4 linked regions of the Homo sapiens genome follow. The protein of the gene in region 2 binds, or shares a complex with, the protein of the main gene of each other region. Each region holds a gene or a part of one and is shown on either strand. Other genes may lie near its edges. The genes, in order: MED4, MED19, MED13 and MED12.

The links.
Region 1: MED19 (region 2) and MED4 share a complex: the UniProt entries of both Homo sapiens proteins name them as parts of the mediator complex.
Region 3: MED19 (region 2) and MED13 share a complex: the UniProt entries of both Homo sapiens proteins name them as parts of the mediator complex.
Region 4: MED19 (region 2) and MED12 share a complex: the UniProt entries of both Homo sapiens proteins name them as parts of the mediator complex.

The regions. Positions count from the first base shown.
Region 1 is NC_000013.11:48,092,105-48,099,911, forward strand, and holds the start of MED4 (mediator of RNA polymerase II transcription subunit 4), read right to left. Parts: upstream 3,001-7,807; 5' UTR 2,975-3,000; coding exon 2,850-2,974; intron 1-2,849. UniProt on the Homo sapiens protein: Component of the Mediator complex, a coactivator involved in the regulated transcription of nearly all RNA polymerase II-dependent genes.
Region 2 is NC_000011.10:57,703,196-57,709,227, forward strand, and holds the end of MED19 (mediator of RNA polymerase II transcription subunit 19), read right to left. Parts: intron 2,035-6,032; coding exon 1,778-2,034; intron 1,621-1,777; coding exon 1,524-1,620; intron 1,441-1,523; coding exon of another isoform or gene 1,427-1,440; exon of another isoform or gene 1,202-1,426; coding exon 1,107-1,201; exon of another isoform or gene 912-1,106; coding exon 843-911; 3' UTR 515-842; downstream 1-514. UniProt on the Homo sapiens protein: Component of the Mediator complex, a coactivator involved in the regulated transcription of nearly all RNA polymerase II-dependent genes.
Region 3 is NC_000017.11:62,055,262-62,062,287, forward strand, and holds part of MED13 (mediator of RNA polymerase II transcription subunit 13), read right to left. Parts: intron 1-7,026. UniProt on the Homo sapiens protein: Component of the Mediator complex, a coactivator involved in the regulated transcription of nearly all RNA polymerase II-dependent genes.
Region 4 is NC_000023.11:71,135,591-71,142,616, forward strand, and holds the end of MED12 (mediator of RNA polymerase II transcription subunit 12), read left to right. Parts: intron 1-690; coding exon 691-1,065; intron 1,066-1,288; coding exon 1,289-1,439; intron 1,440-1,596; coding exon 1,597-1,793; coding exon of another isoform or gene 1,794-1,802; intron 1,803-1,967; coding exon 1,968-2,045; coding exon of another isoform or gene 2,046-2,135; coding exon 2,136-2,353; intron 2,354-5,044; coding exon 5,045-5,267; coding exon of another isoform or gene 5,268-5,378; exon of another isoform or gene 5,379-5,639; coding exon 5,640-5,780; intron 5,781-6,292; coding exon 6,293-6,374; intron 6,375-6,584; coding exon 6,585-6,628; 3' UTR 6,629-6,860; downstream 6,861-7,026. UniProt on the Homo sapiens protein: Component of the Mediator complex, a coactivator involved in the regulated transcription of nearly all RNA polymerase II-dependent genes.

The sequences.
Region 1 (7,807 bases), on a different chromosome or scaffold from region 2:
TTTTTTATTTTTTATTTTTTGAGATGGAGTTTTGCTCTTGTTGCCCAGGCTGGAGTGCAATGGCGCGATCTCGGCTCACCCCAACCTCCACCTCCCGGGTTCAAAGAATTCTCCTGCCTCAGCCTCCCTAGCAGCTGGGATTACAGGCATGTGCCACCACGCCCGGCTAATTTTGTATTTTTTTTTTAGTACAGATGGGGTTTCTCCCTGTTGGTCAGGCTGGTCTCGAAATCCCGACCACAGGTGATCCGCCGGCCTCGGCCTCCCAAAGTGCTGGGATTACAGGCATGAGCCACTGCGCCCGGCCTAGTGTTTCATTCTAAATGCAATGAGAAGCCACTGGGTTATTTTAAACAGGGAAATGGCATGACCTGATTTATACTTTTAAAAACTGTTGAGTGATCTGGTAAATAGACTGTAAGAGGGCCAGAACAGGAAGTAAGTTAGGTGGTTTCTGTAGTGTTCCAGGCAAAAAATGACACTGGTTTTGACGAGGTTATAGCCTCCAGGACTTAGTAATCGTGATGGGAGAAACATGGACAGATTTCAGATATCTTTTGGAGGTAGAGCTAACAGGACTTGCTGATGGATCAACAGCGTATGAAAACAGCATGTTAAGTAAACTTTTTAGTGTACGCCACAAGTGAGACATAGACGGTTGAGAACCTCTGGTCTAAGTAAAAGCTGGTTTCAGGTGGGGCAGGAGTGGTGCTGACTAGAGTGGGGCTATGGTAGGAGATGTGGGATAAGCCTTCCTCTGTTCTTGCAAATCTGGGAGCGTGAGTCCACAGAAGGCTTTACAAGGCTTGCCTTAGGCGCCGGAGTAGAGGGGAGGTAGAAGTCTCTAAGACTTAGTCATGTTCTGTAACAGTCCAGGACAAAATAGAAACCCCTGTCCTCCCCAACTGCGAAAAAGAGGCCAAAGGAAGCCCCCACACTCAAGAGCCCTGTCCTGCTAAAAAGAAGGTGCATTCCCAGCATACTGCATTAGAATCCAGACACAATTCCCCATAGAAATAAAATTTCCATAGCGGTTAGAGCCTACATTATTAGCAGTAATACACTTTTCAGGTAAACAGAATTAACAGGCTGGTGTGGAAAACTCAAGATTCCTATCAACATGGTTCTGTGGAACAATGAGTTTTGAGTTACAAATGGGTTAAAAAAAACGTTTAGCCTACAACCTGTGTTTCAACTTTTTAAGACTATCTCCTTGCATTACATTTTATAAACTAATAAATATCCCGAAAGGCTATATAATCAGGTTAATAGAAAAAAAAAGATCCTAAGTTATAAATCCACTATTTTTAAAGAGGCTAAATCTAAAAATATGTAAGGTATATTCGTGATTTTTCTTCTCATTTTCATAAATGCAAGCCAGACACAAATTACATTCAGAGACTGACAAACTTCACAGATCACAGAATCAGTACACATAACTACCTCTGAGTGAACACATGAGACCTTTCTGGAAGCCAGTCACACCACCAGAGCAGCTTCATTCTGTGAAGAAGTTCCAATGATCCGCCCGCCTTGGCCTCCCAAAGTGCTCGGATTATAGGCGTGAGCCACCACACCCGGCCCTAATACAGTTTATTTTAAACAGTGGATCAAACACATAAGCCATTTAATTTCTGCTGTCTAGGTGTTTTCGGGTTTTCTTCCATCATTAAATATTGTGCTGACCTGGTAACTTGGTAGCAATACGATGGCAAGGACTAAATTTACACCAAAAATAAAGTGCTGATTATATCACGTATATTTTAAAATACAACAGGTAAGATTTATTCTAAAGCTGTCAAAGAATGTTGGCTATAGAAAAAGTGACATTTGAGCTGGATTCTGAAGGATATATGAATCATTCACCAAATCGGGAGTAGACTGGGAATGGCACTGAAGATGTGGAAGTCTGACTAAAGAATTTGAACTTTACCTCACTGGACAACGCAAACCTACCAATGAGGTAGCTTTTATATAATTTTTCTGCAGAAAAGTGATATAAGATGCCTTTTAAAACTGGTATCGGCCAATATAAAAGGATAAAGTGCAGAAGCATGAGGCAATTAAAACTGTTTGGGAGGCTACATTTAAGAAGGAGTTATGAACAGCGGGGTTGGAACGAGAGGGCAAATTGGAGCGACACTTTAGGAGGTAGAACCAAGATAATTTACCATCCAAGTCAATGGGAGGGAGTCAAGGAAGGCTTCAACTTGAAAGACTTATCATGAAAGGTGACAGAATATGAAGAACGACATCTAATTTCATCTCCTATCTCTGACACACAACCATCCTAAACAACTTGCAACTCCACCAAGCCAGGCTTTTTGCACTTGCTGTTCCATCTATCTGTGCTGCCTAGTGAGTTTGGCGAGCTCATGCTTCCCAAGCAGCACTTTCTTCAGAGGGCCTGCCCTGACTACAACCAAAAAAGGTGCCTAGTCCCTGTGCTCCAGTACCCCGCAGCGCAGCCCTCTAATAAAAACAGGCCCCAAGCCAGTTTACACATCTGTCTCTCTCTCGACAGCTGGCATCCAGTCTACCCTTCACTACCGTCTCCCCAATGCTGAGCCCCCAAGGAGCGTTCCATAAATGTTAAGTGGCTGGCCGCGGACGAAGAGGCTCAGACCGCGCGAGTTCTTATCATTACTAAAATTCCCTCTAACGGGAAAAACCGCCGCCCAGAGTGCCAGAGGGCTGCGGACCCCACGTCCATGACCCTCATGCACCCGAAACTCCCGAGCTGGCCCTCCCCGCCGAACCCCGAGAACGAGCACAAACGCAGGGCCGGCCGGCTCCGGGGTCAGTCCCCCGGCCCAGCTCCAGCCCGGCTCTCAGGCTCGCCGCATTACCTAGACAGGACCTCCAAGTCCTCAAGCGCAGACAGCAGCCGCTCTCGTGTGCTGTTACCACCCGCCACTCCCAAACCGCCTCCCAGCCGCTCCTTCTCCTTCTCACCACTCGAAGACGCAGCCATTTTCCCCAGAGTCCCGCCACCGGCGCACGCGCAGAGCGAGCTGACGCAGGTGCGTGGCGAGAAGGCGGGCTCGGAAGGCGGAAGAGTCACCCAGGAGAGGAAAAAGAGGCCTGGCGAGAGCGCCCCCTTTGGGCCTGGAGGCGCACTGCGGACACCGGCGCCATCTGTTGGGCCGGCGAGGGCTTTCTGGTCCAAACCCTGGGAGCGACAGCTGAACTGAGAACAGTGGGGGCAACGCAGTCTGATTCTCCTGGGCCTAATGGTTTTTTTTCTTTCTTTCTTTCTTTTTTTTTTTTTGAGACGAGTCTCGCTCTGTTGCCCAGACTGGAGTGCATCGCCGCGGATGTCTTGGCTCACTGCAAGTTCCGCCTCCTGGGTTCACGCCATTTTTCCTGCCTCAGCCTCCCGAGTAGCTGGGACTACAGGCGACCGCCACCACGCCCGGCTAATTTTTTGTATTTTTAGTAGAGACGGGGTTTCACCTTGTTAGCCAGGATGGTCTCAATCTCCTGACCTCGTGATCCGCCTGCCTCAGCCTCCCAAAGTGGTGGAATTACAGGCGTGAGCCACCGCACCCGGCCCACCTTAACCATTTTTAAGTGGATAGTTCAGTGGCATTAAATACATTCATACTGTTGAGCAACTATCCATCTCCAAAACCTTTTATCTTGTAAAACAAACTCTGTACTCACTAAATGCTAACTCCTTATCCCTCCCTTCTCCAGGCCCTGGCAACCACCATTCTACTTTCCATTGCTGTAAGTTTGGCTACTCTAGGTACCTCATATAAGCAGAATCATACAGTATTTGTCTTTTTGTGTCTGGCTTATGTCACTCAGCATTATGTCCTCCAGGTTCATCCATGATGTAGCATGTGCTGGAATATCTTTCCTTTTTAAGACTAATATTCCATTGTATGCATATGGCACCTTTTGTTCATCCATTCATCTGACGATGGACAGTTAGGTTACTTCCACATTGCTATAATCCATCTTTATAGCCATACATCTTCCAACAAAATGTTTTGCTCATTACTCAGGTTAATTATTGAACTGAAGGAACCAATACAGTACATAAGTAGTAGTTAATTAACATAGTTTAAGTCATTGATGTACCACACATTCCAAACCAGAACTGGTTGTCAAAGGCAAAAATACGTCTTAGCCTACTTTTCCTAGGGATAACAATGTAGTAGGGATCACTCTCTACCAGAAAAAAGCAAAGTTACAAGCCTATTGGGAATGAGGATTCCATATTGCTATTATAAAAGATGGTCTGGGACTGCCTCACTCCCATGAGGTAGTAGTACCTGTAGTCCTTTCATTTCAGGGTCTCATCCTCTACTCTGTCTTTTTGGAGGTGCTAAACCTGACTCCTGGGCACCCAGAGTTGACAAGTCTTTTAGAAATTCATGTTAAATAAATTCACTCATAGCAACTGCTGCGTAATCTAGAATGCTGATTTACTCACTTACGATGAAAAGTAATAGTGCCAAACATATCTTTTTCCCATAGACAAAACTATATGAGAAGCCATATTATCACAGGATGTTGCTTGTTAAACTTGGATCAGAACAAACAAGGATAGATTAAAAATTAATGACACAATCATGAGGCTTTGTGTCTCCACAGTGTAGGGATATTTGTGTTCAAGAGATTGGATTATTTGTGTTCATAGGTCAGGGTACCTTTTCCTCTAGACAGTGCAAGAGATCCTTGTCACCTTTTGTTTTCTGACCGTTCCCTGCATCTGCTGTTGGCTAACCCTTTTTTGTTAATGCAGTCAATTCTCAGGCAATGGGCTAAAGTAGATTGAAGCTTTGTTCATTACACTTGCATTCTAAACATGCCTCTCAGTACTCTAGTCAATCATTTCTTATGTTAAGTTTCCAGGGTGCCAAACTTCTGCGGTATGTGTTGGTTTTGTTTACTCAACTCTCACGGGTCATATTGAGCCATGACTCTGGTAGGAGGAGAGAGAACATTATATTAGTGTAAACATAAAAATTCTAGAAGGATTCTAATTAGTTAAAAATGACCAATTATAGTCCTACTTTGCAGACACTGAGGATCAGTGTGTGGAGCATGTATGTGTATTGTGAACTCCTGACCTCCTCAGATTTATTGCAAATTCATATGCATATTAAACAGTTTCTATAGACTGATAAGTAATAGCATCTTTCACAGATATACTGTCTTGCAAATTGTACAAATCCAGGCGTGATAAACAAATATGAATTATTTTATATAGTATTACTGAATTCATGGTAATTTGGAGTTAGGTACATATTTTCTCAATCTGTAGATTCAAAAAGGACACTACTTTCTCATGAAATTTTATTGACATGGTGGGCAGTGTTCTAAGCACTTCAAAAATATTAACTTGTTTAATTTTCCTAACACTCCTATGAGGTAAGTACTGTTACTATCCCTATGTTACAGATAATGAAACTGAGGGGCAGAAATGTTAAGACACATGCCGGGGTCATATAGTAAATGGCAAAGCTGGAATCTGAACCCAGAGTCTGGCTCCAGGGTCTGTGCTCTTTACCACTGGTTATCCCAGCTCTCTGTAAAGAAAGAAGGATATTCAGGTACTAAAAGGACTGGGAACCTCTGACCTAAAATATGAGAGGACTTCAAAAAGTTCATGGAAAAATGGAATTAAAAGATAATAATTTAAAATATAAACTTTATTTCTCAACATAAGCTCCATCTAGTTCAAGACACTTTTGTAAATGACGATACCAGCCATTTAGTTCATCCCTAAATAAATGAGGGCCCTTGGAATTTAACCGTGTCAATGCTGTCTTTTTTACTTTTTTCTTTTCTTTTTTTTTTTGCCACAGGGTCTCACTCTCTGTCACTCAGGCTGGAGGGCAGTGGTGCAACCACAGCTCACTGCAACCTTGACCTCCCAGGCTCAAGCAATCCTCCCAATACATTATTAACTGAAGAAAAATGAGTGCCCTTTACAGATTTTATTTATTTATTTAGTTTTGAGACAGAGTCTTGCTCTGTTGTCTTGCTCAAGCTGGAGTGCAGTGGCACAATCTTGGCTCACTGCAACCTCCACCTCCCGGGTTCAAGTGATTCTCCTGTCTCAGCCTCCCGAGTAGCTGGGATTACAGGCATGTGCCACCATGCCTAGCTAATTTTTGTATTTTTAGTAGAGATGGGGTTTTGCCATGATGGCCAGGCTGGTCTCAAACTCCTGACCTCAAGTGATCCACCCCCCTCGGCCTCCCAAAGTGCTGGGACTACAGGCATGAGACACTGAGCCTGGCCCAGATTTTTTTAAGATTAGGAAACAAAAAGAAGTCAGATCAGGACTGTAAGGTGGATGTTCAATGATTTCCCATTGAAACATTTCCAAAATTGTCCTTGTTTGATGAGAGGAATGAGCAGGAGTATTGTTGTGGTGGAGAAGGACTCTCCGGTGAAGCTTTCTCGGGTGTTTTTCTGCTAAAGCTTTTGCTAACTTTCTCAAAACACTCTCATAATAAGCCATTGTTATCATTCTTTGGCTTTCCAGAAAGTCACCAGACAAAATGCCTTGAGCATCCCAAAAACTGTTGCCATGCTGTTTGATCTTGACTGGTCTGCTTTTGCTTTGACTGGACCACTTCCACCTCTTGATAGCCATTGCTTCGATTTTGCTTTATCATCAGGATTGTGCTGGTAAAGCCATTTTTCATCTCCTGTTACAGCTCTTCAAAGAAGTGCCTCAGGATCTTGATCTCACTTGTTTAAAATTTCCATTGAATGCCCTGCTCTTGTCTGCAGGTGATTTGGGCATAACAGTTTTGGCATCCATTGATTGGAAAGTTTGCTCAACTTTAGTTTTTGAGTCAGAATTGTATAGGCTGAACAAATTGAGATGTCTATAGTGTTGTCTATTAATTGCTTGTCCTCTGCAATTAGGGCACAAACAAGATAAATATTTTCCTTGCAAATTGATGTGGATGGTCTGCTGCTGCAGGCTTTATCTTCAACATCATCTCATCCCTTCTTCAAATGAGTTTTCTATTTGTAAAACTGCTGATTTCTTTAGGGCATTGTCCTCATAAACTTTTCATAAAGCATCAAGATTTCACCATTCTTCCACACAAGCTTCACCATCAATTTGATATTCTTGCTTCAATTTTAGTAGAATTCATATTGTTCTGATAGGGGCTCTTGTCAAACTGATGTCTTATCCTTCTTGTGCCTCAAACTAGATCCTGTTCATACATGTTATAACAAGTTAGTATGACTTTATTTTGGTGGAAAAATATTTTGAAATGCATCTATAGTTTTTCTATAATACACACTTTTCATGAACTTTTTGAAGAACCCCTCATACAAACACTATCAAATAAATGCACAGCTTGAAATTCTGAGCAAAAAGCAGCTGCAAGCAGTTGGTGTGGAGGTTTGGAGGTGCAGCGAGAAACTCAACCAAGGCTGTCCCTAAGGGTAGGCGGAATAGATAGCTGAATACACTATGTATCTTTAAAAAAATTTTTTTAATTTTATTATTATATTTTTGAGACAGAGTCTTGCTCTGTCACCTAGGCTGGAGTGCAGTGGCACGATCTCAGCTCACTACAACCTCCACCTCCCAGGTTCAAGCAATTCTCCTGCCTCAGCCTCCCAAGTAGCTGGGATTACAGGCATGTGCCACCATGCCTGGCTAATTTTTGTATTTTTAGTAGAGATGGGGTTTCGCCATGTTGGCCAGGCTGGTCTCGAACTCCTGACCTCAGGTGATCTGCCCGCCTTGGCCTCTCAAAATGCTGGGATTATAGGCAGGAGCCACTATGCTTGGCCTATTTTATTTTTTTAAGGCAGA
Region 2 (6,032 bases):
GGCTACATTTTGTTGCTGTTTTAGAAATGTTTTCACATCAGCTAAATAACTTTATTGTCTTAACTAAGGACCGAAGCAGGTCAAAAGTTCTTGTAAAGAGAAGGGAAGCTTTACCTTTGCTTGCCAGAAGTTCATCTCAAAAGATCACAGGCTTCTGACCTAAAGAACCAATCTTGTTGAAACACATGGGTGACTGTCCATGTGTTTTCAGTTGGCTATTCTCTTTCGACACAAAATTGACCTAGAATACACTGTTGAGCCCTACCTGGATCAGCTCTTCAGATGGAGCCTGAGATCACCGAGGCGCTTGGTTCTCAACATAATGGGCAGAGTGTTACGTGTCTGCTGTGGAGTATTAGTAAGCTTGGGTCACTTTTCATTTTGGTTGGTTCCCTGCCTGCTAGTGAGATCATGTAATGACAAGACCCAAATCCCCTCAAGTCTTAGGAATGCCTTGTCTTAAATCCTGATTCACAGAAAGGCACATACCTCTTAACAGGCAGTCACACTTCAGCCAGTTTGATAAATGTAATTTTTTTTTTTTTAAAGAAAACACAGAACAAGTCCTAAATCAGACAAATTGCACAAAAGAGAGAGAAGAAAATTGTAAGCTTCCTGGGAGAGGAAGAGATGTCCATGAGAAAACCAACTGGGATGAGCCTACAAAAGCATGTCCCTCTCTCTCCTAATTTACTTAGTCTCAACTGAGCCCAACAGGAGCTGGCCTCTGTCCCAGCTGCAGGATGCTCCCAAGGCAGTGTCCAAGAGCCTGGAAGGCAGCTTTTATCAGCAGGTTCAGTACAGCAGGAAAAGCCATCCTGGCAAAGAGTCCAGTGGTCCTATTAGCGTAGGCTGCTGCTGCTGCTGGCCTGGGAGCTGCCCATACCTGGGTGGTCTGGACTATGTCGATTCTGGGGGAGAAAGAAGCAGGGTAAGAACAACTAGGAACTAGCCTTGGCTTTGATCAGGCTGTACAGGAGAAACCTGCAACCTGCCTTGGGTTTTCAATCTTGGGTCCAACTTGAGGCAAAGAACTCTAGGGTATTTAGGACAGGGGTGAGATCTGGGGAAACTCACTGGGTTGTGGCAATAGGCCTCTACTCTACCTTCTTTTTCTTCTTCTCTTTCTTCTTCCTTTTCCGTTCAGGATCCTCTTCTTTTTTCTTTTTCTTCTTCTTGTGATCTGAATCAGATGGTGTTTCTGTAGGAGACATTAGGTACCTATCACCTGTAAAGCTCAAAATCCTCTACTGTTATGAACCACTGAAGACTACAGGAAAATCCCAAGTCGGGGCAACTGCTTTTGTCCAAATGGCCAGAAAGGATACAGAGGTGCTGCTAGAGTCCCTGTCCCAAGTCCCAAGAGACCACAGTACATTGGTTTCTTCTTCAGGGGAATTTAGGAGTCCAGAGCTCCATACGGAACTTAACTGGGTTTACCTATGGAAGTTCAAACCAGATTCAGAAGGTCAGGTTTTTTTTTTTTTTTTTTTTTTTTTGCTTTGAATAGAACTGCTTCTTACCTGGGGGGACAGGATCCTGGGTACGGCTCTGTTTGTGCTTGTGCTTATTCTTCTTCTTGGGAGGCTGAATATGCATCAGACGACACTGCTCCGGCAACTGAAGGAACCAAAGGAAGGTCCAGGTGAGTAGAGGGAGGAAATCTCTCCTGCTCTTATCATCCATTCTGCTCCATTATGAAGGAACAGACTTGGAGAGAAAAACCATCTCCATGTTTAGGCCTCCCCATTTGCCTTCTTCCTCCAACAGGACTCACCGGGCCAGTGTGGAGGCGGAAGCCGGCCAGCATGGTCCCTGTGATAGGATTGAAAGAGCTACTGAGAATAGGGGGCTTCTCAATGAGAGAGCGGAGGCTGCTGTTATCATGGGAACCAGGCAGATCAATCATCCCTGGCAGGTCAGGCAGGAAGTTACTTAGCTTCTCCTTCACCTTCTTCCCACAGAATTTATTATAGGCTTGTTCCAAGTTGTAGTGTGTGATCAGATTCGTGCTGCCTGTCAGCTCTGTGCTACCTAGACAACGCAGAATAAAAATAAAAAAGATCAGTCTTCAAAGTAGACCCAGGGAGTGAAGGACTATATATTAACCTAAATAAGACATTTTTTAAGTGCAGATTTTAAAATTTAAAATTTATTTTTAAAGAAACAGAGCAGGCCGGATGCAGTGGCTCATGCCTGTAATCCCAGAACTTTGGGAGGCTGAGGCGGGTGGATCACCAGGTCAGGAGATCGAGACCATCCTGGCTAACAACACGGTGAAACTCCGTCTCTAGTAAAAATACAAAAAATTAGCCAGGCGTGGTAGCACGTGCCTGTAGTCCCAACTACTCAGGAGGCTGGGGCAGGACAATCACTTGAACCCGGGAGGTGGAGGTTGCAGTGAGCTGAGATTGCGCCACTGCACTCCAGCCTGGACAACAGCGAGACTCTGTCTCAAAAAAAAAAAAAAAAACAGCAAAAGTAAATAACATGAAAAGTATAATACAACACAATGGTAGGTTCCAATGGGAAGGGGAAAAACAGGCAAAAATCCAATAGGGCAGAGACAGGAACTGCTCTAGCCCAATGAAGGAGACACTCCACTCTCTTAAGATTAACTGGAGTTGATTTATATGATGCTTGCTTCGTGGTAAATGCTGTTCTGAGTGTTTCTCATAAAATGTATTAGTGAAAAATTATATTCTCTGACACAGCTAGGAAAATACGACCTTGCAGCTCAGCTACAACCATGCTCAGGGGGCCAAATATGACCCAGTGACTTAAGGGTCTTGTCAAGGACTTTTTTTTTTTTTTACTAGCAAGAAACACTAATCACCTTTACATAAGAAAAGAACTGGGAGATTTTTTTCTAGCTACCACTGCCTAACTTGTTACCAACATCTTTATTCTTCCTCGTGATACTGAGTATGATGCCTTGCCTAAAAGGAATAAATGTTTTTTGTTTTTGAGACGGGAGTTTTGCTCTGTCGCCTAGGCTGGAGTGCAGTGGGGTACGATCTTGGCTCACTGCAACCTCCGCCTCCTAGGTTCAAGTGATTCTCCCACCTCAGCCTCCCAAGTAGCTGGGATCACAGGCACACACCACCATGCCTGGCTAATTTTTTTCTAGTAGAGAAGGGGGTTCACCATGTTGAGTAGGCTGGTCTTGAACTTCTGACCTCAAGTGATCCGCCACCCCCCGCCGCCTCGGTTTTCCAAAGTGCCGGGATTACAGGTGTGAGCCACAGCACGCATCCAGGAAGAAATGTTTGATTAGAAGTCAGTCAACTAATGGCCAGGCGCGGTGGCTCACGCCTGTAATCCCAGCACTTCAGGAGGCCAAGGCGGGCAGCTCATTTGAGGTCAGGAGTTCAAGACCAGCCTGGCCAACATGGTGAAACCCTGTCTCTACTAAAAATACAAAAATTAGCTGGACAGTAGTGGCACACACCTGTAATCCCTGCGAGGCGGAGGTTGCAGTGAGCTGAGATCAGGCCACTGCACTCCAGTTTGGGTGAGAGAGTGAGACCCTGTCTCAAAAAAAACAAAACAAAACAAAACAACAAAAACAAAAAAACAAGTCAGGCAACTAGAATTATTCTGGCTGTCTTCCATGCCTCAGTTTCCTCTTATCTGTGGAATGGAATAATAGCTATCTTACATACACATAATTTTCTCCCAAGGTTCAAATGAAAATATGCTGAAAAGCATAAAGTATCAGGCTTGGCACAGTGGTTCATGCCTGTAATCCCAGCACTTTGGGAGGCCAAGGCAGGCAGATCACCTGAGGTCAGGAGTTTGAGACCAGCCTGGCCAATATGGTGAAACCCCATCTCTACTAAAAATACAAAAATTAGCTGGGTGTGGTGGCATGCGCCTGTAGTCACAGCTACTTGGGAGGCTGAGGCAGAAGAACTGCTTGAACCCGGGAGGTGGAAGTTGCAGTGAGCTGAGTTTGCACCACTGCACTCCAGCCTGGGTGGGAGAGTCAGATTCCATCTCAAAAAAAAAAAAAAAAAAGTATTATATGTATGCAAGGCACTATCCATATAAATATTGCATGGCTGATTCTTTTTTAAAAAATATACATTTATTAGTAACTTAATAAGGACCTACTAGCAAGGGTAGAAATAGCTAACTACAACTTCATTTGTAATTATGATAGACACAGAGGGTACAAATGACAAAAATGGCTTGTTTATAATCATTCACTTGGGAAAACTGAGGTACTGAACTGTAAGCTCCTTGGAGGCACAGACAATGTCTTGTTCATTCATGTATCGCTAGTGCCCAGCACAGTACACACATTAGGTGCTTAATAAATATTTATTAAATAAACAAGGCACTTTCCCTCTATACCTCTAGGCCTTATTCATCCTTTTCCTTCCCTTTACTACCAAACAACTCAGAAGACTGAGCGAGGGTAATGGCAGGAGACCCAATGTCACAGTATCTCTCCTCATAACTCTGGGCACTGCCTCTTGCCATTACAATCTTCTGAATTTCCCCTGCTCTGCCAACTCTCCTCTGTCCAGATGGTTATCCTTAAGGCTCAGGTGAGAAGGCAGTCTGTGCTTTTTCTAAACTGTAACTTGAGAGTTCAAATTCCAGTTTTGACTATTCTACAAAGATTACTTTTTATATTTATTTATTTTTTGAGACAGTCTCGCTCTGTCACCCAGGCTGGAGTGTAATGGCACAATCTTAGCTCACTGCAATCTCTGCATCCTGGGCTCAAACTACTTTCCTGCCTCAGCCTCCCAGGTAGCTGGGACTACATGCATACACTGCCATGCTAGGCTAATTTTTGTATTTTTTGTAGAGACAGGGGTCTCCCTATGTTGCCCAGGCTGGTCTTGAACTCCTGGACTCAAGCTATCTGCCTGCCTCAGCCTCCCAAAGTGCTAGGATTACAGGCGTGAACCACCCTGCCCAACAAGATAAAAAAAAAAAAAATTGTTTTGAAATTCCAAATCTTGCCAACATCACTCAGGGCTTCTCTATTTCAATCCATGGCACCCACATGTTCCAGATATTTTTGGAAATCAGTACTCCTCAGTTCACAAATCTTAATGGTTTCTTTTTGCCCTCAGGAGAAAGCTCAAATTCCTTTGACTGGCACTCAAGGCTAATTACATCTTACTCCAACTTAGCTTTGGGGCCTCATCAACCACTACTCTCCTATGCAAAATTTCTGATCCATCCAAATGGATCTCCTTATCGCCTCAAAAAAACACCCCTCACATTATTTCATCTTAGGAAAATTCTTCCTAATTTTTCTTCACCAATATGGATTATTCAAGGTCTAGCTCAAGTGACATCTTATTCTCACTGTCATTCTGGATAGCAACACACTTTGAAAACCATTAGGTAGTTCTTAATATTGATGGCTAAGATATTGTTAATTGCTGTTGTGAGGCATGAGCACAAAATGAGATGGAGGTGACAGGAAATATAGTCACTATCCTTAAACCACAAATTTTACATTCCTAACTAAACTCCTTGAAAAGCAATGACCAGCATTACTAATCTCTCTCTCCATCTCACCCGCCTCATACACCCAGCATTTGCCCAGAACATATATTCAATATCTGTCAACTGACTGATACAAATAGCTACAATCAGAATAGGGAAGGCAAAAGAAAGATTAAAAGAAACCGCTGGTGGACATCAACCACTAACTAATCAAAGGGATGTCAACTTCTCCATGTTTCAGTTTTTTCAATTATAAAATGTAGACAGTAATGCTACCTCAAAGGGCTATTCTAAGTATTAAATACTACTTATATTAAATACTGCATGTAAGTGTGTTGTGAACTTCAAAGTACTATACCAATATTTGTTGCTATTTCCCTCAAGTCATGATGTGGAAATAAGACTTGAGACAATGAAAGGCATCTGGGAGGCTGGGCGCAGTGGCTCACGCCTGTAATCCTGGCACTCTGGGAGGCCAAGGTGGGCGGATCACCTGAGGTTGGGAGTTTGAGATCTGCCTGACCAACAGGGAGAAACCCTGTCTCCACTAAAAATAA
Region 3 (7,026 bases), on a different chromosome or scaffold from region 2:
CGGCTGTAGTCCCAGCTACTCAGGAGGCTGAGGCATGAGAATCACCTGAGCCCAAGAGATGGGAGTTGCAGTGAGCTGAGATCACACCACTGCACTCCACTGTGGGCGACATAGCGAGACTCTGACTCAAAAAAACAAAAAAAAAAACCTTTGCAATAGTAAAAGCTAAAGCACAATTTATAAATTTTCACATGAAATTCTGAAAATTTTATGGTTTTATTTTGTAAAATCTATTTTAGTTAAACTTGCAGTCAAATGATTTAAGAATATTTAATGTGAGGCCATGTGCGGTGGCTCATGCCTATAATCCCAGCACTTTGGGAGGTCGAGGCAGGTGGATCATCTGAGGTCAGGAGTTCAAGACCAGCCTGGCCAACATAGTGAAACCCCATCTCTACTAAAAATACAAAACTTAGCTGGGCGAGATGGCATGCACCTGTAGTCCCAGCTATCCGGGAGGCTGAGGCAGGAGAATCACTTGAACTGGGTGGCAGAGGCTGCAGTAAACCGAGATCACGCCACTGCACTCCAGCCTGGTGACAGAGCAAGACTCCATCTCAAAAAAAAAAAGAATATTGAATGTGGTTTAGAAAAGTAATCAGTATTAATCTTGAAGCATTTCTCCCTCATTATTCTAATGCTTTCAGAGGGGGTGGGCATCTTATGTCCCCAGTGCCCACAATTCTCATTAACACTAAATAGGAGCTATGCATAAAACAAACAAGTAGAGACCACCTGTTGAGGTTTTCTAAATCCAACGTATCTCTGAAGTATGTCCTCATCTATATGGCAAGCAACTAAGCAACCATTACACTAAAGTAATATAATTTCATATTTTGTTGCTGAGAAAAACGAGAGTAAGTCCTAATAACGCTCAATAAAGTCTGAAGGTTTTTGGTTTTGTTGGGAATCACTTAGAAACAAGAAGCCTACTGAGCCAAGTTTCTAATATCCTGACAATCTAATAACTGTAATAAAAGTACTTTCTACACGTTGTATTCAGATACGAAAAGTGAAATGGTACAACCAACCCACTCAAGGCATAGTGATATGCACTATTTACACTAATTGAAACAAGTTCTTGAATCTCAACACCAGCATTATAATAGGGAGGGGAAGGAGAAGGGAACATATGGCAAATCTTTACCTATCTCTTTTGAACTTAACCAGAGCCTAATAGAAAAAGTCTGCTTAATCTATATAACTATTTTCCTCCTCTAGCCAGGTGCAATGACTCATGCCTGTAATCCCAGCTACTTGGGAAGCTAAGACAGAAGGATCACTTGAAGCTAGGAGTTCAAGACTAGCCTGGCAATACAGGAAGACCCTGACTCCAAAAAACTTTTTTTAGTTAGTAGGGCATAGTGGCAATGCCTGTAGGCCCAGCTGCTGGGGAAGCTGAGGTGGGAGGATTGCTTGAGTCCAGGAGTCGGAGGCTGCAGTGAGCTATGATTAAGCACTGCAGGCTGAGTGAGACAAAGTGTGACCTCCATCCCTACAAAAAAAAGAAAAAAAAATTCCTTCTCTTGTAGCTCTATGTCCAGAGAAAATAAAGTTCAACTCTGCATTCTTAGTACTTTTCTGTTACTATTAGCATTACAGTTCTTAATCATCAGTGTTTCTTGAAATTTTTATGGACTATTTATTGGAAGAAAACACAAATGCTAAATTTGATTACCATATTTTTTTCCTGAAGATGCAGATTACAGTAGTGCCAAAGTATGTGATAAGTCATCAAAATAATTCTCTATCAATGGGGAAAAAAAATCACAACCAAAAAAGCAGACACACCCTGCACTCAACATTTTTCTCAAAAAAATGGCATCTTTAAATATCTCCACGGTGGTAAAAAATGAATCTTCTCCAATACAATTTTGCAAAACTATTAAAATGTAACATATGCTAATGAATAATGGCTCAAAAATTAACATGGTAGAAAATACCATGTATTTCCTGAAATAAAGAGAAATGTTTAAATGCTAGATCAGTGTTTCTCCTGAATAATCATTAATAACCTATACATTCAACAAATATACCGAGAGCCTTAAGTTGGCCGCATCATTATCTATGGCAAAACTTGAAAACTGATTTAAAAACAGCCTAGTATGTTATGTTTGGCTTGAAAACTTAGAAGATACACTTGATCAAAAAAACAGTATGCAGAAGAAATACAGCAAATGAAGTTGTCACCTAGGAGACTAGCCAATTTAAAGAGTCGGGCCACATCACAAGTAAATTTTACAATAGTAGAAATAAATTACTCTCTTTAGACTATGTGGGGCACACAACAATGTTTTAGTTTGGCTGGGACTAGATTCCTATGCCTGGCTGTTTATCTATCTGTCAATCCTATTAACAGCTGTCATTTAAGGTTAAAGTCCACTACAGTTAATATCCTTCAATTAAAACATCCAAAATTAAATTCAGAACAATAGTCCACTTAGTTTGAGCACTATTCATTATGATAAAATTCTGGTATAATAAAACTATCTGAACATGTTACTAAAATCTACTTTACAGACCTCAGGAGCCAGGAAAAAGAACAAATATTTTTAGCCCTGAGTTTTTTTAGTTCACAAGGTATCAGTTTTCTCAAAGAGTCTCATCACAGTCTAACTTGCTATGATTTTTTTAAGATGACAAATGGGAGAGGACGCAGTGTTTGCTTTTATTTTTATTTAAAGGGAAAGAATAAAAGCCAATGATGACAGCAATTGAATTCCAAAAATGTTAGAACACAGAATAAAAATACACAGAAAACTCTCCTTCAAGACCACATTAATGAAAATGATACAATCTTGCTCTGAAGCAAATTAACAGTACACTTAAAAGTACCAGTCCTACCCACCACAGAGATTCTTGACCAGAGGGACTGAGCTAAGATTTTCCCATCACCCATTTTATACCTCTTTCACCCACTATCACACAACCACTAAACAAAGCTACAAAATACAATTTTTAAAAAAAAGGGGCCAGGCATGGTGGCTCATGCCTGTAATCCCAGCACTTGGGGAGGCTGAGGCGGGCAGATCACCTGAGGCCAGGAGTTCCAGACCAGCCTGGCCAACATGGCGAAACTCCTATTAAAATCTCTACCAAAAATACAAAAATTAGCCAGGCGTGATGACACATGCCTGTAGTCCCAACTACTCGGGAGGCTGAGGCAGAAGGATCGCTTGAACCTGGGAGGCGGAGGTCGCAGTGAGCCAAGATCGCCCCACTACACTCCAGCCTGGGAGACAGAGCGAGACTTCATCTCAAAAAAAAAAAAAAAAAAAAAAGAAAGAAAGAAAGAAAAAAGCTGTAACCCCAAAGGAGTTTTATTCCCTAATCCTTTTTGTATCAAAACATATCGACCCCGATTCAACTAATCATTATCCTATAGAGGATAAAGCAAAAAGTAAGAAAATCATCTATGTTTGGCTTTGGAATTCAAGAGATTTTTTGAACAAATAACCTTCTGGAATGTTATAGTTTGGCTAATACTAGTTAGCACAAATCCTGATCCAAAAATCATCCAGCCTTTGCAAATTACTTTGCTCAACGGTATTGACTTACTGCTACAAAATGAGTAACTGAGGGTTTAAAGTATGTATTAAATCAGACGTGATTTGCTGTAACTGATCTTTGCCAGTTAGCAATAAAATAAGTTTACATTCTATTTCTACACATCAGCTAAACTTGAAAGGAAGGTAACCCAAACAAATGCTAAGTGACATAAGAGAAAATGAAATTTAAAATGCACTATGGAATCTGAACAGATTCTTCAGAACTGTCGAAATCATCAAAACCAAAGAAAGTCTGAGAAACTGTCACAGTCTAACAAAGCCTAAGGAGACATGACAATTAAATGTAATAGGGGTATCTTAAATGAGATCCTAGAAAAGAAAAACATATTAGGCAAAAAAATAAAGGAAATCCAAATATATACTTTAGTTAATAATAAAGTATCAATATTGGTTCATTAGTTAATTTTTAAAAATACACTGCATGACACAAAGGAGCTAAGGGGGTTAAACAAAGGCAATTCTGTATTTCTGTTACTGAATATTCCAGTTAAGAAAAACTGAGAATTCTAATCTTTGAAAAAAGAAATGCTTTCCCTCTTCCCTCACTACCAAGAAAAACAAGGGCAATATTATCACCATAATAAAAAACACTTCAGTAACAAGATGTGGTGTGTGCTGAACCAAACAGAAGGACACTGCCTGTGAAGAGCAGGCTCAAGCTAAATTAACCAGCTTTTTAGTTACCACCTGGGTCCTTCCGGTACCCCATTCCTCAGTGCTACACCTCCACTTGGAACTCAGGACTGCCTCCAGCAGCTGATGCTACCCTGTACTGTCCAGCTGCTCTCTTCTCAGGGGAGCTTAGAAGAAGGAAATAGAGTGCCACAGATGGAAGAAATGAAAAAGGGGTTAGCTAGAGAGACAGAGGCAGACTAATTACCCCAAGAGGGAGGTAGACGCTGTCCCTAGAGCAAAGAAAAGGGCAAGACAAATATATTCCATCTGAAAAAACCTTATTATGCTTTAAGATACGTCTGATTTAAGTAACAACATTCTTAAGTAAATAACAGGTTTTATTTTTAAGAAAAGCTAAAATATTATATAAATAACACTGACTATGCAAACTAAAACAGTACAGGACAAGCTTTGGAACAATAAATATGATCATATACCACTCCTAATTGTATTTCAGTTTATTATTTCAATCACTTCACTTTGATAAATTTTTAAGTTATTTACGGCCAGGTGCAGTGACTCACGCCTGTAATCCTAGCACTTTGGGAGGCCGAGGCGGGTGGACTGTCTGCGCTCAGGAGTTCGAGACCAGCCTGGCGAACACGGTGAAACCCCATCTCTACTAAAAATACAAAAAATTAGCCGAGTGTGGCAGCATGTGCCTGTAATCCCAGCTACTCGGGAGGCTGAGACAGGAGAATCGCTTGAACCCAGGAGGTGGAGGTTGCAGTGAGCTGAGATTGCGCCACTGCACTCCAGCCTGGGCGACAAAGCAAGACTCCATCTCAAAAAAAAAGCTATTTACCATTCATTAGCATTCAGTAAAGTCTGACAGCAGTTAAAACCCTACCTCCTGCCTGTAATCCCAGCAGTTTGGGAGGCCAAGGCTGGCGGATCACAAGCTCAGGAGATCGAGACCATCCTGTCTAACAGTGAAACCCCGTCTCTATTAAAAATACAAAAAATTAGCCGGGCGTGGTGGTGGGCGCCTGTAGTCCCAGGTACTCAGGAGGCTGAGGTAGTAGGAGTATGGCATGAACCCAGGAGGCAGAGCTTGCAGCAAGCAAGCTCCACTGCACTCAGAGAGCGAGATCACGCCACTGCACTCCAGCCCGCGGGACAGAATGAGACTCCGTCTCAAAAAAAAAAAAAAAACCAACCTCCCAAAATTATTTTCATTCACGTTCAAGATCACTATCTATTTTTTTTTTTGAGACAGAGTCTCACTCTGTCGCCCAGGCTGGAGTGCAGTGGCAAGATCTCGGCTCACTGCAACCTCCGCCTCCTGGGATCAAGCAATTCTCCTGCCTCAGCCTACTGAGTAGCTGGAACTACAGGTGCGTGCCACCATGCCCAGCTAATTTTTGTGTCTTCAGTAGAGATGGGGTTTCACCATGTTGGCCAGGATGGTCTCTATCTCCTGACCCTGCGATCTGCCTGCCTCAGCCTCCCAAAAGTGCTGGGATTACAGGCGTGAGTGAGCCATGGCACCCAGCTGATCACTATTTTAAAGGTACAAGTAACTACCATTTTTGAAAATTACGCTAAAAATCAAAGCTAGAGAAAAATGTTTAAGACTGTAACCTAGTTTCAGTGGAGAAAACATATCTGACTGGTAACATGAAACCTAGAAGACAAAACTGACTTTTAACAATATCCATCAAAGCAGCTCACATCTAACTTTAATAGTCTTTTAACTTTCACAATATTTTTTCTATTACGGTAAAACTAGGCCAGGTGCAGGGGCTCACACTTGTAATCCCAGCACTTTGGGAGGTTAAGATGGAAGGATCACTAGAGTTCAGGAGTTCAAGACCAGCCTGGTCAACACAGCAAGACCCCATCTCTACTTAAAAAGAAAAAAAGAAAAAAAAAATTAAACATTATGTATCTCTTAAAATTATCTTTGATTCTACAAAGTGTATTTCATGGAATCTTAAAAAAAGATCTGTTTAGTCTGTTTAGATGCTCTGCCAACTTTATTAAGAAGACCAAAGCCCCTAAGTCACCATTATAGTTTTATCAATAATTATGTTTTATCAACAAATATATTTTATCAATAGTTTATAGTTTTTCAACAATGTTATACAGTCTCCAAACATTCTAGTAAGGTGATTTTTATGACCACTTAACGATTAAAATAACTCAAATACTATATCCAAAACAATGAAAGAAAAAGGAGGCTGGCGGACTTAGCTTTTGGCATAATTAGAAAGTATTGTCTCGCTAAAACTACCATATATACATACATCATGTATATGTACATATATGTATATACATATACACATCACTTTACACATTTAGAACTACATTAAATACACACAACTAAGGACTGGACTCTGCAGCAGGCATCTTATTAGAAAAACTACAAAAGCTGGAAAGCTTTCTTGAAGAATTGCAGTCACTCTCAAAAATAACAATTAACACTGGAGAGTATGTTCATTAGAATGTGAAAAGCAATTATCAAAACATACAAATGTAACACGTACATTCCTACATAAATGTTGGTCTTACTAAGTACCAGTTCAAGATACAGACACCTAGAATACATTCTATCCAAAAATAAAATAGATCCTATAGGTCAGAGATACAATAACAAAAACTTCAGAGTACTCAATTTCAAATAAGAACTTAAAAAAAATTATCTAGAAATCCTAAGTTTATCTGTCAAAAATCATTATCAAACTATCTTACTGAAGTCTTTGGAACCTTATAGCATACAACCAATCATTTATATTCCTATTATCTAAGATTCAGTTAATACTGACTTTCACAATTTAAA
Region 4 (7,026 bases), on a different chromosome or scaffold from region 2:
GTGTTTCCCTACACCCACCCATCTCTGCACACTTTTATCTTTTCCCTCTCTGTCAGTTGCGGTATTTGTTGAGTAACCATAATTATTGTGTATAGTTTAAAACCCAAAGTCTAACTCCTTCATATATACATTCTCTTCATCTGTCTTCCTAGTCCATCTGTCTCTTTTCCTCCGTCTCTGTCTCTCTCCCTGTCTGACTCGTTTGCCTTTCTTTGTCTCTCCACCTTTTTGTCTCTCTCTTCCTGTTTCTTTCTCTCTCTGACTCTTTCTCGGCCTGCCTAAAGGCAGAGTCTCTCCCTGCCTTCCTCTCTCTCTTTCTCTGCCTTCCTTTTTCTGTCTTCCTCTGAATGTCAATCCCTCTCCCTCCCCGCTCCCTCTCTGGCTTTCTCCCCAACCCCTTTCTCTCCCGATCTTCTCTCCCCACACGCCCCCCGCCCCGTTAGTTCATCTCCTCTCCTGGTCTGGGCTGGCTTCATCTTGTGCCTCCACACCTCTCCCTGTGCCCCACCCTTCACTCTCTCCCCGCATAACTCTCTTCCGCATGTATATGTGTATCCATGTCTGTCTGTCTGCTTCTTACCATCTCTCCTGAATCTGCCTATGACTTTCTTTCTACCCATTCCTACAAATGCTTGCAGTCTTCTGTTTTCTAAGTCCCAACAGCTTATTGTTTTTCATTTTCTGGAGCAGGGTCTACAGGTTTCCACCAAACAGAAGATCTCGCCCTGGGATCTTTTTGAGGGGTTGAAGCCGTCAGCACCACTCTCTTGGGGCTGGTTTGGAACAGTCCGAGTGGACCGGCGAGTGGCTCGAGGAGAGGAGCAGCAGCGGTTGCTGCTCTACCACACACACCTGAGGCCCCGGCCCCGCGCCTATTACCTGGAGCCACTGCCACTGCCCCCAGAAGATGAGGAGCCGCCTGCTCCTACCCTGCTAGAGCCTGAGAAAAAGGCTCCAGAGCCCCCCAAAACTGACAAACCGGGGGCTGCTCCACCCAGTACTGAGGAACGCAAGAAGAAGTCCACCAAGGGCAAGAAACGCAGCCAGCCAGCTACCAAGACAGAGGTGAGCGCCTCCCCCGTGACAGTTCTCCCACAGCCTCTCACTTCATGACGCTCCGGTTTCTGGTTTGTGGGAGGGGTGGGGGCGCATAAGGAAGGGGTGCCATTAGAATCATAATAAAAATTAACCATATACGAATTCAGCTCCTCTTTACCTCATTCTCCCCCAGCTCCCCGACCCCATTCAGCTACAACCCACTCACCCTCTTCCTCTGCCACTCACACAGGACTATGGAATGGGCCCGGGTCGGAGCGGCCCTTATGGTGTGACAGTGCCTCCGGACCTCCTGCACCACCCAAACCCTGGTTCTATAACACACCTTAACTACAGGCAAGGCTCCATAGGCCTGTACACCCAGAACCAGCCACTACCTGCAGGTGAGTGCCAGCCACTAGGAATGCTGGAGGGACCTACCTGTACACTCCCCCTGCCCAAAGGATGATGCCATTCCCCTGAGGAGCTATGGATGTCAAGGACACTGAGCAAGAGACAGAGGGATGAGGAGCCTAGAGGTCAGCCCACTCTCCTTTTCAGGTGGCCCTCGTGTGGACCCATACCGTCCTGTGCGCTTACCAATGCAGAAGCTGCCCACCCGACCAACTTACCCTGGAGTGCTGCCCACAACCATGACTGGCGTCATGGGTTTAGAACCCTCCTCTTATAAGACCTCTGTGTACCGGCAGCAGCAACCTGCGGTGCCCCAAGGACAGCGCCTTCGCCAACAGCTCCAGGCAAAGATAGTGAGAGGGGCAGTAGGGAGGGCTGTCAGGGAGAGGGGCTTTTGAGGGTCACAGGACGGAGGAGACACTTGGGATCTTCACAAGGACACTCAGGGTGGGAGACACAAGAGATGAGATGGCAGCAAGCATTTCCTGAGTTTGAGTTGTTCTCTTTTCTCCCTTTAGCAGAGTCAGGGCATGTTGGGACAGTCATCTGTCCATCAGATGACTCCCAGCTCTTCCTACGGTTTGCAGACTTCCCAGGTAAGAGCCTGGGATTGTGAGACTAGGGGGATGAGGCAAGCTGCTCTGCATACTCTCGGCCCTGATTCCCTCTCTCCTTCTTCCCTCCAGGGCTATACTCCTTATGTTTCTCATGTGGGATTGCAGCAACACACAGGCCCTGCAGGTACCATGGTGCCCCCCAGCTACTCCAGCCAGCCTTACCAGAGCACCCACCCTTCTACCAATCCTACTCTTGTAGATCCTACCCGCCACCTGCAACAGCGGCCCAGTGGCTATGTGCACCAGCAGGCCCCCACCTATGGACATGGACTGACCTCCACTCAAAGGTACCCAAAGTAGTGGTGAGCTAGGAAGAGATGCAGAGGTATAAGGGAGCATTTGACTTGGGAAAGCCTGTGCCTGAAAGTGGTGGGACTGGTCAGAACTTTCGGAGACATCAAGAATACTTATCTGGCCACATAGCCCATAACCACAGAAGTCTCGAGCTGGAAGGGACCCTGGAGACCAATAGTTTCATGACTACTTCCTTAACAGTTCTTTGAGGCCCAGAGAGGGGAAATTGTTTATCTGACTCAAGGAAAAATCTGGGCTGGGTGTGGTAGCTCACACTGGTAGTCCCAGCACTTGGGGGCCCAAGGTGGGAGAATCAGTTGATTCCAGGAATTCGAGGCCAGCCTGGGCAACATAGGGAGATCCCATCTCTACAAAAAAAATACATATTTTTTTGAAACAGAGTCGCACTCCATTTGCCCAGGCTGGAGTGTCGTGGCATGATCATGGCTCACTGCAGCCTCGACCTCTGAGGCTCAGGTGATCCTCCTACCTCAGCCTCCCAAGTAGCTAGAACTACAGGCACACACCACCACGCCCAGCTAATTTTTTGGATTTTTAGTTGAGATGGGGTTTCGCCATGTTGCCCAGGCTGGTCTTGAACTGAGCCACCACACCTGGCCAAAAAAAAATTTTTTTTTAATTAGACAGGCGTGTTGGTGCATGCCTGTAGTCCCAGCTACTCAGGAGGCTGAGGTGGGAAGATTGCTTGAGCTTGGGAGTTTGAGGCTGCAGTGAGCTGTAATCGCACAATGAGCCGAGATTGTGCCACAGCACTCCAGTGGTGACAGAGTGAGACCCTGTCTCAAAAAAAAAAGAAGAAAGAAAAGAAAAAGAAAAAAATATCTGGAGTTCATAGATGAACTACATGATAAGGAGTCGTAAAGCCAGTACCGGCTTTGAATACCAGGTTAAATACCAGGATGGACAAATGAATGAATCCTCCCACCATGGTTAACGTTAGTCAAGCCTTAGTTGAGGCCTTGTAACCATGTATAGAGACTCTGAAGCTTAGGATTAAGAACACTGGGGAGTGGGCTAACTGCCCATTGTGTGGCCAGCACTATACCAGGACTGGGTGAGGTGAAGAAAGATAGCAAAAAAAACCCCCACGATACATAGTTCCTCACTACAAAGAATCTTTACTATAGCTGGGGAGATGAGACTTATAGAAGAATATTGAGAGAACACTCTGAGCAAAGATATAATCAGGTATGCAGTTGTATGCTATGAGGTAAAATGTGGATTGAGAAAAAGTACGTGGTAATATCTGTGGGCCTGACTCATCAGAGAATGTTTCATGAAGGAGGTCAGACTTGAGTTGGCCTCTGAAGAATAGCTGTGATTGGGATTTGTGGAGAAGAGGAAAAGAAAGGGCATTCCAGGTAGAGGATGTAACGTGAACAAAGACATGGGGACCAGAATGAGGATGGTGCCTGGGGAGAAGGGCCTGGATGGAGTGTAAAATCTGTGCTGGGGAAGTCACTGGGGCTAGGCTAGGAGGGGGCAGGCTGAGAGATGGCCTTGAATGCTCAGCCGAAGAATTGAGACGCAGTCCCAGAAAGGGCTCTTTTGATCAGAAGAGTGATAGGAGGAGTTGGGTATGTTGCAAGGTTCCTTGGAATGAATGGATAGGATGTGTACTGGAAGGTGCAAGAAGAAGACTTCAGGCCAGGCACGGTGGCTCATGCCTGTAATCCCAGTACTTTGGGAGGCCCAGGCAGGCAGATCACCTAAGATCAGGAGTTCGAGACCAGCCTGGTCAACATGGTGAAATCCCGTCTCTACTAAAAATACAAAAATTATCTGGGTGTGGTGGCATGTGCCTGTAATCCCAGCTACTTGGGGGGCTGAGGCAAGAGAATCACTTGAACCTGAGAGGTGGAGGTTGCAGTGAGCCGAGATCGCATCATTGCACTCCAGCCTGGGCAACAGAGTGAGACTCTGTCTCAAAAAAAAAAGAAGACTTGAGACGGGGAGCCTGGCCAGTAGACTCTTGAAGTGATATACACATGTGGTAGAACAACTTGAAATGTTATTTGGGAACAACAACAGCAACAGCAAAAAACCTCAATGAGTGTTTATAGAATGCCTATCTTGTGCTAAGACTATTTTTTTCTTTTCTTTTCTTTCTTTTTTTTTTTTTTTTTGAGATGGAGTCTCGCTCTGTCATCCAGGCTGGAGTGCAGTGGTGCAATCTTGGCTCACTGCAACTTCCACCTCCCAGGTTCAAGCAATTCTCCTGCCTCAGCCTCCTGAGTAGCTGGGATTACAGGCATCCACTACCACGCTCAGCTATTTTTTTTTGTATTTTTGCTAGAGATGGGGTTTCACCATGTTGCCAGGCTGGTCTAGAACTCCTGACCTCAAGTGATCCACCCACCTTAGCCTCCCAAAGTGCTGGGATTACAGGTGTGAGCCACCGCACCCAGCCCTATTTTTCATTTTTGTAACAGAAAAATAGCTAATGCAGAATTGAAAAATTCCTAACCATTAAGGTTATGAGACACTAAAATAGAGTATCATCTTATGCAACTTATTCCCCAGACTGGAAGTCTGGTTAGTGACACGAGGAATGAATGAAATAACCTGCTAACGTTTCTTTCAGGTCAGGGACCCAAGGTTTATACTGACCCCCTCTCCTCACCTCCCTCATGCCTTGACCTCTGACCCTCTTATCTTTGGAGGTTTTCACACCAGACACTGCAGCAGACACCCATGATAAGTACCATGACTCCAATGAGTGCCCAGGGCGTCCAGGCAGGCGTCCGTTCAACAGCCATCCTACCTGAGCAGCAGCAGCAGCAGCAACAGCAGCAACAGCAACAGCAGCAGCAGCAGCAACAGCAACAGCAGCAGCAGCAGCAGCAGTACCACATCCGGCAGCAGCAGCAGCAGCAGATCCTGCGGGTAAGGCACTGGGATTTCATCTGGGACCTGGGAGCCCAGGGAGGAAGAGAGGCACAAGTTCTTCCCACACAGTTACCGAGACTAAACAAGGCAGTGTACCAAAACACCTAGCAGAGCGGCTGGCCTCTAGTGGTGCTGGAGAAGTTTTCTACCCTCCCCCTTTTTGTTTTCTGGGGATCATAGTGGGAGAGAGTTGGACATTGTCTGCTGGGTACCCTAGATTTGGTTTCTTTCTGTGCAGCTGTCTAAAAAGGGAAGGCAGTAGACCCCGAGCTCCCACCCTGCTTCCTCATCCCCTGCCCTCAGCCCTTTAGTTCTGAGGCTTAGCTTCCTCCCTCTGCTCCTTCTGAAGTATCTTTTGTGTTCTTATAGCAGCAGCAGCAACAGCAACAGCAGCAGCAGCAGCAGCAGCAACAGCAACAGCAGCAGCAGCAACAGCAACAACAGCAACACCAGCAGCAACAGCAGCAACAGGCGGCTCCTCCCCAACCCCAGCCCCAGTCCCAGCCCCAGGTAGCTGCTGGACTACAGCCCCAGGCTCAGGGACAGCTGCCCAGGTTGGGCACGCAGCCAGTGAACTGGGTTGGGGACAGTATGGAATAGGGTAGAGGTGGGAGGCAGGGCATGGCACCCTAAAAATGGATTGGGAGGCCAGGCGCAGTGGCTCACGCCTGTAATCCCAGCACTTTGGGAGGCCAAGGCAGGTGGATCACTTGAGGTCAGGAGTTCAAGACCAGCCTGGCCAAGATGGTGAAACCCCGTCTCTACTAAAAATACAAAAAATAATAATAATAAATAAGCCGGGCATGGTGGCAGGTGCCTGTTATCTCAGCTACTCAAGAGGCTGAGGCAGAGAATTGCTTGAACTTGGGAGGCAGAGGTTGCAGTGAGCCAAGATCATGCCACTGCACTCCAGCCTGGGGGACAGAGCGAGACTCCATCTCAAAAAAAAAAACGGATTGGGAAAGGAGGTTGAAGAAGGAGAAAAGTTCGACTTCAGTCTTCCACTTCCTATTTCCACCCAGTTCCAGCGCCAGGGGCTTCAGCAGACCCAGCAGCAGCAACAGACAGCAGCTTTGGTCCGGCAACTTCAACAACAGCTCTCTAGTAAGCCTGCCTGCCTTCCCAAGGAGAACCCCATGGAATAAATTTAGGGGGCGGGGTGGGCCAAAGTAGCTGAAACGATAGCTTCAGGCCCAGGTTATGAGAGGAGGCATTCCATTCCATCCCCTTCCCTCGATACCTGAACAGCTTTCCTCGTGCATACCCACACCCCTGCCTGGTCTTCCATCCCTGATAATCTCTGGTTTTTCACAGATACCCAGCCACAGCCCAGTACCAACATATTTGGACGCTACTGAGCCACCTGGAGGAACTGCTTGTGCACTGGATGTGGCCCCACCCTTTCCTCTTAATTCCCAATCCCATTCCTGGGCTAGCACCAGTAGTGGTTGGGGCCCTCCCCTCAGGCTCCATTTTTAATAAGTTTTTAGTATTTTTGTTAATGTGAGGCATTGAGCTGTTGGGTTTTGTATATTATTTATATAGAGACCCCAGAGCTGTTGCACCCAATACACAGAGCTTCTTTGCAAAGGGAGTGTGCGAGTTCTGCATGTCTGGGAAGGGTGGTCTCTTGGGAGAATGCAGGGGGTTGGACCAACAAGTCAGAGTCTTCATTCTATTCTGATCATCTCCCCTGTTTACCTTACACTCTAAAATTTCTTTTTTTCTTTTTTTTTGAGACGGAGTCTTGCTCTGT